Linked DNA regions of Homo sapiens: region 1 is linked to region 2. Evidence: fine-mapped expression QTL. A gene starts in region 2. The other region holds a variant in brackets. All regions are shown on one strand. Distances are between the middles of the regions. Region 1 has its middle 77 kb from the start of ATPSCKMT. Region 2 holds the start of ATPSCKMT (ATP synthase c subunit lysine N-methyltransferase).

The links. PIP is the estimated chance that this variant, and not a neighbour inherited with it, causes the effect. A credible set is the group of variants that fine-mapping cannot tell apart.
Region 1: its variant is the best candidate, but not a certain one, in a credible set for the expression of ATPSCKMT in transverse colon (GTEx, PIP 0.58).

The regions. Positions count from the first base shown.
Region 1 is chr5:10,169,708-10,175,085 of GRCh38, forward strand. No RefSeq gene overlaps it. Among named protein-coding and RNA genes, the nearest start is that of ATPSCKMT, 77 kb to the right of the region's middle. The variant T/C (reference allele first, on the strand shown) is at 2,611.
Region 2 is chr5:10,247,518-10,252,895 of GRCh38, forward strand. It overlaps ATPSCKMT (ATP synthase c subunit lysine N-methyltransferase), which reads right to left and starts at 2,371. Exons shown (of 5, transcript NM_199133.4): 1 at 2,341-2,371. The coding sequence starts at 2,356. It overlaps CCT5 (chaperonin containing TCP1 subunit 5), which reads left to right and starts at 2,763. Exons shown (of 11, transcript NM_012073.5): 1 at 2,763-2,928. The coding sequence starts at 2,824. RefSeq lists silencers at 2,141-2,260, 2,271-2,330, 3,081-3,150, 3,221-3,360, 3,691-3,913.

The sequences.
Region 1 (5,378 bases), 78 kb before region 2:
CCATGTCAGCACCAAGGGTTTTCTTGCCACTGTAAAGAGGGCCATCACTGCACTCATGCTTCCTCTTTCCTGGTCTAGTTGTCCCAGAGCAGGCCTGTACAACCTCCCACCATACATCATAAAAGTGACAGAGAATACTTGTTAAATGCTACATGCATACGTATGAATGCACTGAATCATTACAGCAATTGTTATTACTCCTATTTTCCATATGAGGAAACTGAGGCACAGAAAAATTCAGTGACTTGCCTAGTCCAGCTCTCCTCAGGCATGGAGAAGAGGGACAAGTGAGTCCTCCAGCTGTTAGTCTGGGGCACCACAGCATGCATCCTGCTTTCAGAAATCTCCTGATCCAAAGACGTGCTCTTTCCCAATCTTCTTGAAATGCCCCTAAACTTCAGGAAGTTATGTCCAACATTCTCTCTCTCATGAAGTAAAAAGAGGGCTGCTGAAGTCAGCCAACAAATTTGGCCCCTCCCCAGTTTTTGCTTTGACGTCCCTCCCCTAGTAGAGAGAAGGAATACTTGGTCCTTTCGGTTTCCTCCACAATCTTCATCTTCCCTGGCAAAGTTTCCACTGAGCCCACCCACTGAACATGGCCAGATGATAGCCACAGGTCTGAGCCCACCCATCGAACATGGCCAGATGATAGCCACAGGTCCAGCTAGCTGTTTGAAGCCTCAGATGACTGCCACAAGTAAAATGATGCCCTGCGGTCCAGCAAGGGTAAAGCCTTCTCCAGAGTACCTCTTCCAGAATGTTCTCATAAGGTTGAACCTTTCCTGGGTACGCTACGAGCTACCCGAGCAATGCAAGTGATCACCAGGAGTGGCTGGCAACAGGAGATAGGGAGACAGGAATGTTTGTGTTAAAACACCCCCCAAGAGATTTTGACAGCAACCCACCCCTGGGTAAGCTCCAGGAATAAAAATGTGAAATCTCACCTTCCCAATCTGGTCTTCGTATTTTTTACTTTTTTCTGATGATAGAAAATAAAATATACTCATTATAAATTTTTAAAATTAAATTAAAAGTGAATAAAGTAGAAAGTGGAAAGCCTCTAAAGTCTAGCCTCCTCAAAAAAAAATCCTCAAGTAATAGATGGGTGCATATCTTCTAGAGCTTTCTATACCTACATAAATAGATGTAACATTGACCACTTAGCCAAGCTATCATGTGTCTTAATGTTCCAGCAGTAACATGGGCTTCTAACACATTGAAAATGTAAATTAACCATTATAGATACTTAAGGTGAGTTGATTTTTATAATAATGGCTGGCTTCTGTATTTTTCCCTATAGTTTTGTTCTGCTATCTCCAGCACAACTCTTCCTGTTCCTACATCTCCAAGCATGAGGTAACAGTTCTGCATGAGTTGGTCAGGTGACACAGATTAAACTGGCCCAACCATGTCCCAGATGACAGGAATTTGTTCTGAATACTGGGATGTCACCCGCCTGGGTGCTTGCTTTAGTGAGATGACAGCATGATACCCTCAGGTTGATGACAAGTGATGGTGCTTATTGTTCAAGAGAACAGATCCAGGTGTCTTGGGTGAGGGAAGGAGGTCCTAGAATCCAGAAATTCCAGGAAGTCTCTTCTTCCCCTATTAAAAAACAAGTGCACAAGGTTTGACAGGATTCATGTGATGGCCATGGGCCCAGCTTGGTAAAAGCCTGCCCTGGAGAATCTAATGGGTCAGCTTAGGGAGATACCACAGTGCAATCTATGAATCAGGAAGCAGGCCCTCACCAGACACTGAATCTGCTGGTGCCTTGATCTTGGACTTCCCAGCCTCCAGAACTGTGAGAACTAAAAGTCTGCTCCTTATGAATCACGCAGTCCATGACATTTTGTCATAGCATCAAAATAAACTAAGATACCGCCTCTCTTGTGTACAAAACCTGCCTATGGACCTCTCAGACCTCCATGAATTCCAGGCTAAGAACCCCTGCCTTTAATTAGAGGAAAAAATATTCAGCAATTCTCTGCCATCCCACACAGTTGCCCAACTTTTCCTGGGTTAAAGTGCACTATTATAAAAAAAAAACCTGAAAGATGAAGAACTAAAATGAAGAAACAGCTCTCACTAGGAGAACACCCCATCTAACATCCATAAGTAAGACATGTTTTATCTGTACGGTTGCCATTTATTTTTCTAACTTAGGTAATTCATCTGAACATATTTTTCTTTTCATTTCCAGTCAGTATATGAAAGAAGTTTTAGCTTCATAATTTTAGTTCTTGGGGAATTTGGTAAAACGTACTAGCCATCATATTCTTGGGTTGAATCTTCTCCATAGCAATAAATCTCAGAAAAAAATAAAAGAAAGATGATGCACTGCATCATTTCTAATTCCAATACTATTTCTGGTTTAACATATGACTTTTAGGTCTTTGTTAACATTTTTGTCTAGCTTTGTGCAAATAGATGGGAAAATATCTAATGTGGTACAAAAATATAACTGTAAAATAAAAGCTCTAGGTAAAGCCATAAGCAGGAATAATCAGCTACAAAAATATCTCTCAAGTTGAATAATAGAGTTTTAGCTCAACTATCAATTTTGAATACAATTACAGCCCAGTAGTTAGCAGATCATTCAGAAATGGA[T/C]ATTTTACTGTTCTACTTTTCAAATTACAATGTGGAACTTTTAGCAATAAAGGGCAGTTTGAAGAAGTGAAAAGTCATAAAATGGGAAATGGAACATATCTAGCAGGAGTAAGGGGAAAAGGGAAGTGTGAGGAGCGTTTAATGGGGCTGGCATCACTATGGCTTTAGGAAGAGAATCACTTCTGATCTGAATGTCCCAAGAGATTGGGTAATAAAGGAATGCTGGATGAGTTCAATTTAAAAAAAATAGAGTAAATGCTCTGAAATGAATATTGAGGAGAAAAATGCACACTATGTCTGCTAAAATTAAAATTAGTATTGGTAAATTGGAATCATCAATAGAAAAATGCTATGCCAACTGCAATTTAAGGATATGACCACCTGGAAGCAAATACATACTCAAGACAAGTTCATTAAAGTGATTATTTCTCTAAATCTGGTAAAATTCCTATCCAGAAGATATTCCCTATGCTCCAAGCCAAAACAGACAAAGTTGGGCTCAAAAACATCTCCTATCTCACACAAGAAAGAAATTTTAAAATTTCAGTTCATTGAGGAGGGCTGAAGTCTCTGAGGGAGACACTATCTCTAACCTCCAATGCTCTGAGCAAACCTACCATTTGCTCCAGAAGAAGACAGCATCCCTATCTTGCCATACAAACAGCCTTGAAAAGTTGGTCCAGAACAAAGGCTGTCAGTGCTGCTTTTGCAAAGACATTCAGAAACGCAAATGACAATTGCACTGACACAGAGTCCTCTTCAACAGCAATAGGTGTCAGAAGACAATGGAACAATATCATTGACGTAATAAGAAAAAGCTTAGAATTTTATCCCCTCAAGAGTGAAGGCAACATAAAAGTATTGTCAGATAAATGTAACCATTATAACGAGCTATCAAAATTTGGGGATATATGGCTGGGTGCAGTGGCTCACACCTGTAATCCCAGCACTTTAGGAGGCTGAGGCAGGCGGATCGCCTGAGGTGAAGAGTTAGAGACCAGCCTGGCCAACATGGAGAAACCCTATCTCTACTAAAAAATCCAAACATGCACACCTGTAATCCCAGCTACTCAGGGGGCTGAGGAAGGAGAATTGCTTGAACTCGGGAGGTGGAGGTTGCAGTGAGCTGAGATCACACCACTGCACTCAAGACTGGGTGACAGAGTGAGACTCCATCTCAAAAAAAAAAAAAAAGTGGGGATATAATCATAAAGCAACTGAAAATTACTAATTTCTGCTTCTCATTTTCCCTTTAAAACTACTAGTCGACAAGTCCTTCTACTTCTGGATAAAAACAGCCCTGTGAATTTTCTGCTCACTGTGAGAATGAAAAACTTTTAAAGACCTAAATCACAAAACAAAACATCAATTTCACATTTTAAATATTCAATAAGCATCAAAATTCAAAGTTTGATTCCCAGTTGAAGTTTTTCTCCCTCCCCCAGGTCAGGGTGTTGCAGGTGAAAAACTTGTAGTCAAGGAAGAGGGTAGCATAGGCTCTTCTCCTTTCCCCAGCTGTACTTCTATGCCTCCTCCCTAAATATGGCTTCTGATCCCTCCAGGTCAAGCAGAAAAAAGAAGAGGCAAGGGCAGCAGGAAGTCTCCCACTGACTAGTATGGGGAAGTGAGCTAGCATCTGTGCTCTCAGGGTTGTGCAAGTGTTTATATCTGACTCTTTTTGTCATGGTGCTTTCAGGGGTCTTCTGAGACTTCCCTCTGCCATCCATAAAAACTATTCATGAAGTTCCCTTGATGAGCATGAGTCTTTTCCAGCAGGTAAAGACCCTTTCATGTCCATCAAGAGAACTACATGAGACTTTCCTGCTCATCAAGGGAACTCCTGGAGACCCCTTCTCTGGTCTCTAGGAATATGGTGAGACCTCCATTTTCTCTCTTCTTGGAGACAATTTTCCTCTCCATGTGGCCTCTTGGGCAAGACTTAAAAGGCCACACACTGGCTTTCTTAGGTATATAGTCCATATCTAGTCCACAAAATGCATTCAAACATCCTTTGCCTCCACAAACTCTGGGAAAGTAATGATCTTCCAAAGACGCCCTCTCCCTTGTTGCCAAAAGCCACATTAGCCTGTCTTAGCATTGCAGTATCACCAACCTGACTCAGTCACCATCTATTCTATCTTCCAAAATGCAAGGCATTCATACTACTCTTTTTGGCAGTCCTCTCAAAATGCTTCTTAATTTGCAGTTAGGAAGTTATTTAATAAGGTACAGCACTTTCCAAAAGTAAATTATGATCTTCAAAACTCTTCATTTGATTTTTATTCTTCCGTTTCTTGTTCTCTCCAACTTCTTTATAAGACATTGATTAGTAATCAAATTTGAATAGAGTCAAATCTGAATGAGTAGAAAAGTTGGTTTTCTGCCATTTTGTTTTACAGTCCTTTGGAATATAGCTTGTGTCATCTTCATGGCTGGGAAATGTTCCATTTTACCACCTTGTTACACATCAGGTAACTCTTCCTGAAGAGCTATGTATTCAAGCAGGAAAAAAAAATGAACCCACAGAGAAAGCCTTGTATACAAGGAACAGAAATTGATAATGTCAATAAATTTAATCATTAATTACCTCAAAGTTACTAATACTGCCATTTTTAAAAAGGATGGGAGTTCCCAGTTAAACATGTGAATTAAACAGATTTATTTATCTTGATTTGCTATTAAAACTCCACTATAGGGACAATAAAGACATTTTTAAGGTCATAAATACACAAGGACAGTGGGGAAGGCAATGACAGCTGAACAGAGAT
Region 2 (5,378 bases):
TTTTTTCTTTAGAGACAGGGTCTCCCTATGTTGCCCAGGCTGGTCTCAAACTCCTGGGCTCAAGCAATTCTCTCGCCTCAGCCTCCTAAAGTGCCTCCATGCCAGGACCTGTATTGATTCTTATCAGTAAAAATCAGGCCCTGAATATTCAAAACTAAAATCAAGACTGTTTCTACAAATCCTTCTAACGGAACATGTTCAGACTCCCAGACTATCCTATATATAAATGGCAAGAACTTTCTTTCAGGTGTTCTTTGGAACAAGGAGCCATTCTATTAAATAATGGCTGCAGTGGCCACTGGCTACTTTCATTGAGCACTTAGTAGTCCATCCTTTAAAGTCAAACACAGAATGAGGTTAACTTCTACTGTGTCCGGGCCCTGCTTGCTTATTGACTTCTAATATTGGTTGAAAACTTCAATTTTTAGTGGCAGATTTGGATCAGCTGAAGCTAGAGGCAGTGACAGATGTACAATAAGGTACCCAAGGTTCTTATCCAAGTTCAAGCCAAAAGAAAAAGGCCAAGAAGAGAGAAGGAGCCTGTTAGGAATAGTAACTAGCCACGTGTTTAAAGCGGGCTTATATCAGAATGTCACAACTCATAAGGACTGTTCATTGTGCACTTGTATGTGCATACCTGTTTAATAACTACAGCATATGTTATGTCCCTTTAGCATATATTCTTATGTCCTTAAGAAGCCTTTCTTATACTAGTCTAATGTCATTTGTGTCCTTTTGACATACATGAGCTATTGATATTAGGAAAAATCCTCTCTCACTCCCCAGTGTTTTGACAGGGAATCAACTACACAGAGGATGCCATAGGACATTCTATTTTTCACAACAATCGAAGGAGCCAAATGAATTGCAGAAGTCACCATTTTTAATGAGGAAACACTGAATTGGCAAAGCTAACGTGAAATAAGACCTGACTCCAAAATCTAAAATGTCCTTGAAGAACACTTCAAGGTCTAGCGCGTAAGTATGCCAAGCATGAAGAGTTAACAGATCACCAACCATCCCATGACAGTCAGTCCTCCCTGTTTTTAGAGACAGAATCTCGCTCTGTCGCCCAGGATGGAGTGCAGTGGCGCGATTATAGCGCACTGTAAACTGAACTCCTGGGCTCCACCCATCCTCCTGCCTCAGCCCCAGAGTAGATGGGAACACAGTCGCCAAGTCTGTTCTTGAGTTTCAGGACAGGGTCAAATGTTATAGTGCATGTATTCATTTCAGCACTTATTGAGTGCCTAATAAAGTCTGGGAATAATACAACTTTATTAGTTAAGTCCCTGCCCATGGCAGTAGGGGAGAAGCAAGGATGGAAACCCTCAACAAATAAATCTAAACCTATCAAATATTAAGTCATGATCTTGGAGGGCGGGGAGGAAGGCAGCATAAGAGATTTAGAGGACAGCTGCGGTTGCCAAGATCTTTCTGAGGCAGCATAATACAGGGCTTAAGAGTGAGACCTGCCGGGCACCGCGGTGGCTCAGGCCCAACACTTGGGGAGACCTAGACGGGTACATCACTTGAGGTCAGCCGTTCGAGACCAGCCTGGCCACTACGGCGTTAACACCGTCTCTACTAAAAATACAAAAATTAGCGAGCGTGGTGGTTCTGTGCCTGTAGTCCCAGCTGCCTGGGAGGCTGAGGCACGAGAATCACTGGAACCCGGGAGGCGGAGGCTGCAGTGAGCCGAGACCGCGCCACTGCACTCCAGCCCGGGCTACAGTCTTGTCTCAAAAAAAAAAAAAAAAAAAAAGAGTGTGGGACCCATTGCATCAGGCTGTGTAACTGTTTCTTACTAGCTGTATACCAGTGGCAAGTTACTGAACCATTTGTGCAAAATGTTAATTTATTTACCAACACTGTGTTCAGCTTGCCAGGCACCGTTCTCCTTGAATCTCACAGCAGCCCTGTGAGTAGGCACTACTGTTACCACCGTCACTTTGCAGACAGGGAACCCGAGGGACAAAGAAGTTAAGGGATTTCCTCAAAGCCACAGCTAGGAAGAGCGGCAGAACTGCGATTCCAATCCATCAGTGTGCCTCCACTATCCCTATTCCTTAAGATCGTGCCAAAGGCTGAGTCACTTGCACTAAGTAGCCTAGAACAGTCTCTGGGGAAACGCGCCCGCCGACAAGGATCGCCAGAACCGGCGCGGGCACCGCGCGGCGACCAGGAGCTCTGGTCACCGAAGGCCAGGCTGGAGGCCAGAGCAGCCGCCCGCACCCGGTCACCGCCTCGACAGTGGAGACCTCAGCTGACCGCGAGCCCCCGGCCCGCCCGCACCCCTTCTCATGCCCCCAGGAACCCGCCAAGCCGCTCCAGCCTCACCTCCTCCTCCCTCCATCGCGAGATTTCCAACAGCGTTTTTAAAAAAAAAAAAAAAAAAAAAAAAAAAAAAAAAAAAACCGGAAATGGGTCCTACCATCTTCTCGGAGCCGGAGTGCGAAGAAATAAAGAAATAGTGCTTTAAGTCAATGAATTCCTCCTTGGGACCCACTATCGAGAAACTATCAGTGGTAACGTTTTAAAAAATGACAAATTCAATCTGCTCTTGACTTGTGTGTCCTAAGATTTCCACTAAGTGTCTTCAAACCTCCCCCTCCCCGGCTTCCTGGATAATAGAAGTTCCCGAAGGCCGCCGATTCCAGAAGATACTGTCTGGCGTGAAATTAGTCTCAGTAGAAACATAAGTCCCGCGCGTCTTGTGCTGCGCGTGCGCAAGCTTTTGGGCCCTCCCGAGAAAGGGAAGTGCATTCTCGCTTCCGTAGCGGTCTCCGCCGGTTGGGGGGAAGTAATTCCGGTTGTTGCACCATGGCGTCCATGGGGACCCTCGCCTTCGATGAATATGGGCGCCCTTTCCTCATCATCAAGGATCAGGACCGCAAGTCCCGTCTTATGGGACTTGAGGCCCTCAAGGTAATGGCACAGGGACCTGCTCGCGGTGGGCTAAGGGGAGGTGGCCGAGGCCGTGGCTCTGCGCCTGCGCGAGTTGAGGAGCGGCTCTGCCATGTGCTCCCCGGAAAGGTCGAGAATCTCCGTCTCCCTGCGGTCTCCGGCCGCTCAGCCCGCTTACTGAGCTCGGGAGACGCCGGCGCCTAATCCTGGGCTCGGAATGTGGGGGCCAGCCAGGCTGGGCCGCCAGCGCCCTTCGGAGCTGGGTGGGGCCGCTCAGTCCGGTCGCCCGCGGGAGCAAAGCGGGACCGCCTCCCCGCCCGGCTCCTCCAGCCTGACGGCCGCGTGGGACTGCGCTCCAGTGGGAGGGCGCCGGGGAGATGCTCTGTCACCTGTCGGTTAAGGCGCTGCTGCTTAACCTTTCGCTGGTCCACCCGCAACGGCCCTTCCGTTTTCTTTGTCACTCGTAAAGGTGTGGTCACTTAACAGGGTATTTCATTTCTGAGTGCTTTTTTGCCCACCCTTGAGGAAAAATAGCGAAGAGTGAAAAACGGACGCACATAACCGTAATACAAGGTGGTGTGCAGTGAGAAGGACAGCTACGGAGAGGGTGCACATAAGCGTGGTGCTGGAGGACAGCTTTAGATCGGGGTGAGAGGTAGCATTCTAGGGAGAGGAAACGGTAGAAGTAAAGGCTTGGGCAAGAATGCGCATGGCACGTTGTAGAATGGAAGAGCCATCCGGTTTTAATGGAGCACTGACTTCTTTAACTTACAATAGTTCCCGAAGGTGGAAGCTATTGAATGCCCAACATGGAAAATACGACGTTATCTTTGGGGAAGAAGGGGAGCCATTGAGGGGGTTTTGAGCAGAATTTCAGTAGAGCTGCACTTCAGGCAGCAAAGCTTGAGATAGACCGAAGGGAATAAGGAAGACCAGAGGGGTTAAAGAAACCAGGGCAGGGGTGCAGGTAAGAAACATCTGAGCACCAGACGTTGACAGAAAATGCAGAGGAAGGGACACTCCGAGAGGGCCTTCAGGGTTTGTTATAAAGTGAATTCATAATAGACCATTCCACTAGGTCTCTCAGGTGTCCCTGTTCACTTAGTGTCTTGGAGGTTTACTTACGCAAAGTTAGAAACAATACAGTTCCCCTATGGACTCTTTGTTTGACTTAGTGCTAGTTACACAACCTCGCGGAACCTCCTTTTCCAGGGGGAGGTGATAGGCCTCCGTCAAGCTGAAGACTTGACAGTGATATTAAATGGAGTGACTTAGAGGGGCTGCACAGTGGTTGATCCACGGTAGGCACTCAGTATTTGTTTCCTTTCTAGAAAGAAAAAGTTTCAAGCTAATTGTATTATGTATTCCATTTTATTTTCCACTTAACAGGGACCTGCAGAGAAAATAACATCCAATACACACACCTGGTGTAACAACATAACTAAAACTAGGTTGTTTTGCATCAGCCATTTTGTTCAAACTGCATGCATTTGTGCCCAGAAGTCGCACACTCTGAGACAGGGTTATTTTACAAAACTGGGGACTTGGGCCCAGAGCAGTTGAGAAATTGTTCTGAAGAGCAGTTGCTACTAAAGAGCATTACCATGGTCAGGGCCACCGCTGTCAGAGTCAAAGCCAGTGGTCTAGAGCAGCATTCTCAAGTTTGGCATATTGACATTCGAGGTCGGATCATTCTTTGCTGTGGGAGCTCATTTGGACAGTAACCTGGGTGTTTAAGTCTCTTAAAAGAGTTGGATGCTGTTGGTAGGCATCCTGTGAGTGTTGAGGCTCAGCAGTTTAGGGATATACACTTGCTCCCTGACCTCATAGAACGTCCAGCTAACTTGAAGAACCAAAATATATGGAAATTGAAGGCAACGGTAAAAGAAATGTATAGGCCAGGACGTGAACGTTTTAATGGTAATGGTCACAGTTCTTTCTCTCTGGTCATTTAGAGCCTTAAAGGTAATATGTATTTTGTTGAGATTCTTCACTTGTTTAACACTTAACTGTATAATATTTCACCTTAAAAATGCAGGCATTGACTGGGCGCGGTGGCTCACGCCTGTAATCCCAGAACTTTGGGAGGCTGAGGCAGGAGAATCGCTGGAACCTGGGAGGCAGAGGTTGCGGTGAGCCGAGATCACGCCACTGCACTCCAGCCTGGGTGACAGAGTGAGACTCCGTCTCAAAAAAAAAAAAAAAAAGGTGCAGGCATTAGTTGGCTTAGGAAGGAATCATATTCTAAAATCCTGTAACCTAAAACAGAGCAGGCTAAGTTTCCAGGCCAGCCAGCATAATTCTGTTTTATCCATAATATGTATTATGCCTTGATGTTTGATACTCTTCCCTCTGGAAACACACAGAACTAGCAGAAGGAAGAAAAAGGTTTTTTCCACGTTGCCGAGCAGTAGGGCAAAATAGATCTCGGGATTTCGGGATCTCTCCTATTTGCCAAATTCTTTACATCC